Linked DNA regions of Homo sapiens: region 2 is linked to region 1. The links come from fine-mapping of genetic effects on gene expression. Tissue or cell type: unexposed skin. Region 1 holds a variant in brackets; the other region holds the start of a gene. All regions are shown on one strand. Distances are from middle to middle.

Evidence for each region. PIP is the estimated chance that this variant, and not a neighbour inherited with it, causes the effect.
Region 2: it holds the start of OSTN, and the variant in region 1 is the best candidate, but not a certain one, in a credible set for the expression of OSTN in unexposed skin (GTEx, PIP 0.68).

Annotation. Positions count from the first base shown.
Region 1 is chr3:190,979,334-190,982,024 of GRCh38, reverse strand. No RefSeq gene overlaps it. Among named protein-coding and RNA genes, the nearest start is that of SNAR-I, 100 kb to the right of the region's middle. The variant G/A (reference allele first, on the strand shown) is at 1,557.
Region 2 is chr3:191,197,962-191,200,652 of GRCh38, reverse strand. OSTN (osteocrin) reads right to left here and starts at 1,412. Exons shown (of 5, transcript NM_198184.2): 1 at 1,346-1,412.

The DNA of each region.
Region 1 (2,691 bases):
AAGATATCATCAGAAGTTTTGATTCACACGTGGATGTGGAAACAAAGACAAAATTATTGATAAGACTTGGTCCAATATGCATGATTTGTAAAAGGGAAGGTGATAATTTAATTCCAGGTCTAAGCTGGACATGGTGGCATGTGCCTGTTATCCCAGCACTTTGGGATGCCAAGACAGGAGGATCACTTGAGGCCAAGAGTTCAAAATCAACCTGGGCATCATATCAAGGCACTGTTTCTACAAAAAATTAAAAAAAATAGACAGGCACAGTGATGCACACCTGCAGTCCTAGCCAGTCAGGAGGCTGAGGGAAGAGGATCACTTATGCTCAGGAGTTCAAGGTTAGAGCGAGCTATGGTTGCAACACTGCACTCTAGTCTGAGTGACAGATTCTGTCACTAAAAATAAAAAAATTAATAAACAAATCCCAGCCTAGTGGGATGAAGATGCGGTTTTTTTCCCTTTTATTTACTTACTGATTATGTTTATTACAACTCTATTTATAATTGTACCAAAAGAAGAAAAAACAAACATTTGCAACACAAGAAAAATGATTAAATGTTTATTGTACATTCCTATAAAATTTATTATTATTATTATTATTATTAGTAGTAGTAGTAGTAGTATTTTGCTTTTGGGGTGGTTACCAGAGGCTGAAAAGGGTAGTACGCAGGGAAGAAAAAGGGATAGTTAATGGGTATGAAAATATGGATAGACAGATAGAATGAATAGGATCTAGTATTTGACAGTACAACAGAGTGACTACAGTCAACAATAATTTATTGTACATTGAAAAATAACTAAAAGAACATACTTGGATTGTCTGTAGCATAAAGTATAAATGCCTGAGATGATGGATACCTCATTTACCCTGATGTGCTAATTATTCATTGCATGCCTGTATCAAAATACCTCATGTACTCCATAAGCGTCTGTTCTCATGCTACTATGAAGAAGTATTTGAGACTGGGTAATTTATTTTAAAAAGAGGTTTAATTGACTCACAGCTCCACATGGCTGAGGAGGCCTCAGGAAACTTACAATCATGGTAGAAGACAACTCTTCACAAGGTGGCAGGAGAGAGAATGAGTGCCAAGTGATGGAGAGCCCCTTATAAAACCATAATATCTCATGAGAAGTTACTATCAGGAGGACAGCATGAAGGAAACCACCCCCACGATTCAATTATCTCCACCTGGTCTCACCATTAACATGTAAGAATTACTACAATTCAAGGTGAGATTTGGGTGAGCACACAGAGCAAAACCATATCATTCCACCCTTGGCCCCTCCCAAATCTCATATTCTCACATTTCAAAACACAATCATGCCTTCCAAACAGTCCCCCATAGTCTTAACTTATTCCAGAATTTGCCCAAAAGTCCAAGTTCAAAGTCTCAGATGAGACAAGACAAGTTCCTTCTGCCTATGAGCCTGTAAAATCAAAAGAAAGTTAGTTACTTCCTAGATACAATGAGGGTATAGGCATTGGTTAAATACACCCATTCTGAATGGGAGAAATTGGCCAAGACAAAAGGGCTACAGGCCCCATGCAA[G/A]TCCAAAAATCTAACTGGGGAGTCATTAAACCTTAAAGTTCCAAAATGATCCCCTTTGACTCCATGCCTCACACCCAGGTCACATTGATGCAAGAGGTGGGCTCCCACAACCTCAGGCAGCTCCACTCCTGTGGCTTTGAAGGGTACAGTCCCCCTGTCAGCTGCTTTCATGGGCTGACATTGAGTGCCTGTGACTCTTCCAGGCACACTGTGCAAGCTGTTGATGGATCTACCATTCTGGAGTCTGGAGGATGGTGGCTCTCTCCTCACAGCTCTACTAGGCAGTGGCCCAGTAGGGACTCTGTGTGGGGGCTCCAACACCACATTTCCCTTCTGCAATGCCCCAGCAGGAGTTCTCCATGAGGGCTCTGTCCCTGCAGCAAACCTCTGCCTGGATATCCAGGCATTTCTATACATCCTCTGAAATCTGGGCAGAGGTTCCCAAACCTCAATTCTTGTCTTCTGTGTACCCACAGGCACAGCACCACGTGGAAGCTGCCAAGCAAGGGGGCTTGCACCCTCTGAAGTAATGGTCTGAGCTGTACATTGACCCCTTTTAGCCATGGCTGGAGCTGAAGCAGCTGGGATACTGGGCCCTATGTCCCGAGGCAGCATAGAGTAAGGGGGACCCTGGGACAGGCTCACAAAACCATTTTTTCCCTCCTAGGTCTCTGGACCTGTGATGGGAGAGGCTGCTGTGAAGTTCTCTGATATGTCCTGGAGACATTTTCCCCATTGTCTTGGTGACTAACATTCAGCGTCTTGTTACTTATGCAAAATTCTGCAGAGGGCTTGAATTTCTCCTTAGAAAATAGGTTTTTCTTTTCTATCACATGGTCAGGCTGCAAATTTTCCAAACATTTATGCTCTGCTTCCTATTGAACACTTTGCCACTTAGAAATTTCTTCCACCAGATATCCTAAATCATCTTTCCCAAGTTCAAAATTCCACACATCTCTAGGGCACAGGCAATGTGCCACCAGTCTCTTTGCTAATGCATAGCAAGAGTCACCATTGCTTTAGTTCTTAAGAAGTTTCTCATCTCTATCTGAGACCACCTTGGTGTTGACTTCATTCTCCATATCACTAGCAGCATTTTGGTCAAAGCCATTCAACAAATCTCTAGAAAGTTCCA
Region 2 (2,691 bases), 220 kb before region 1:
CCTTTTCACAAGGACAAAATACAATATTATCAAGCCTTAATTCGTGCTTAAGGCTTGCCTGCAGTTGTATAGGTGGATTATAGCAGAGCTAGAATGATATATTAGGATTTCTTACTTCGAGTTCTTTATTTTTGAGACAAGTTCAATTAATCTAATTTTATTAATCAAATGTTCAAATCATTGAGAGTATTTGTAAAAGAAGTTAAAATTATAGCCCTGAGGTTCCCGTGCCCAGTCAACTGAAGATATCTGCTTCTCTACTGCTCATTATTCAGTATATAAGAATCAGTTAAAAATCCTGAGAAATAAGGGGGAGAAAGCAAATGTCAACCTTAAACACTCTGAATAATTTTTGAATGAAGCCATAGTAAAATTCACTGACATGAAGGAGACCTGAACTGTTATCTACAGAAAGTGCTCCTTAGAAAAGTTCTGTAAGCGTGCTGAAGAGTAGTACCAAAGTAAGAGAAAACACAGAATGTCCCTGGTGTTTTTGGTATAACACTATCAATTCTATAACTTATATAGGCATTAAAATTACCATAATTCATTCTCAAAAATGTTAAATTTTTAGAAGGAAAACTCATAAACAAATAATAATCACATTCCTAAACCTATAGAGTCTGTTATTCAAAGAAACAACATTTGAATTGTTAGAACTGAATTCACTGAGTGCACACTAAACCTGAAATAAAATTTTAAATTTCTTCTCCAACAGAGCTCAAATGTATGTTTCAGATTAACTCTCAATTCAATCATTGAATAGCAAGAGCACTACAAATACTGAAGAACAGGCATACTCTAAGTCTACTCCAACTATGTTATTAATATCATATTTGCATATTTGACATATAAGGAGAAAAACAGAAGATGCATTAGGTTTTAAGAACATAAGAGATAGAATTTCATTAGTTTAGGGATGTTTCTTAAGCTCCAGTTTTGATAGAAATAATGAGGAAAAAACCTTTCTTTTTTACCTAGGTTGTTTAGACCACTCTTTTATATTAAACATTTTTCTAATATTACACAATTTTGAGGAAAGCAAAATAACGCTAATAACATATATATGTATAGAATTATTATTTTGCATTCACTTTCTGTTTGTTTTGAAATGGAAGAGAAAAGCAATCTTATAAATATGAAATATCTGAATAAGCAATTAGTTCTACCTTAAGTTTGCATTACAAAAATATCTTTGATTTTCTACTCATTTTAGAGAGGGAAATATTACCACTCTAATTTTAACAAAATCAAGATATAATCAAAACATTTAAAGAGTCTGTGAAAGTAAAAATAATAGTTAAAAGAAGCATTAAATCTTTATCAATTTTTACATATAACTTACCTCGTGAAAGATCAGGAGATTCTAACTTTAGAGTACTGTCTCTGCAGTTTCTCCAAAACTCAGCCCTGGTGGTGAGTTTTCTCTCTGAGTTTTTATAGTCTCAGTTATACACCCCTTACTCCAATCCCTGCCTTTGCTTTCTCTTACATCATTTCTACAGATTTTCCACTGAACATTTTCCCAAGCCTCTCTTCGATCTCTTTCTCTCCCTCCCTCTCCCTTCCTTCTTCAGTTTCTCCCTCCCTCCTTTCCCTCCATATTTAGTCTATCTATTGCTTTGATCATGGCATTTAAATAACGATGGAAGTATAGGCTCTGGAAAATTTGAATATAGATTTAGTATTGTGTTCAGCTTCACACCCATCACCTCTTCCTGAGGTTTTAGTCAAGCTCTGATTATTACAAATCATATTTGGGAAATAAAATGCACTAAGATTTGTTAAAAAGTCACCAGGGAATTTCAATGTACGATATAGAGAGATTGTAATCAGACACAAACGGATTTATTGGTGTAATTTTTGGACCTTTAAATGATCAGCTATGGAAATAATGAGTACTTTCAGCCTCCGTCAGGTGCACAGTGCTGTGTCAGTGAAACACAATGACAGCTACTTCGTAATTAACATTGCTATACTGGGAAGGCTGTCACTAACAAACCTATAAATACTGAGCTGTGACATGTGAGCTATAAATGAAGACGTTGTAATCATTTTTGTCTTGCTCTTGTTCTTCAGTACTTTGATTTCTTTTTAACCAAAATATTTCTGCCTTTGGCTGAAGGTTTTCTTTCATTCTTATCTCCTACTAATTATATTTGCATCCTTACATACACAAATTATTTTTTAAATGAATTATTAAGTTATAAAGGTAACATGTTATGTTATTAGATCGTTAATGGCTCATTTGATTCACCAGAGGGTCCCCATCTGACAGGTAAAGAGGCCAAGGCTCAGATAAATTAAGTGACTTTATGAGATCACACACGTAAGAAGTAGTCGCAGAGCTGGATTTCAAATGCAGATCTTCCTAATTCCATATCCAGTTCTTTTCCCACGACTGCATTCTATCTCACTGCTTTAAAAGCTAGAAAAGAGAATCCAAACCAGATTATATTTTTGCACAAAAAGCAATAAATTTATTCTTTTTGGTTTCCCTAAAAAGGCCATTTAAAATACTAGTCACTAGTATAAGGACAATTACATGGTTAATTTGGATCTAGATGGGGAAACTGACCAGAGCACACAGAATTAGTGGGACAGTAAAATGCTTCATTTTTATGATGGGTTTCCAGGGATAACATATGTCTCAACAAGCTTGAAATTTGAGTAGTTGGCAGAGACAGTTCA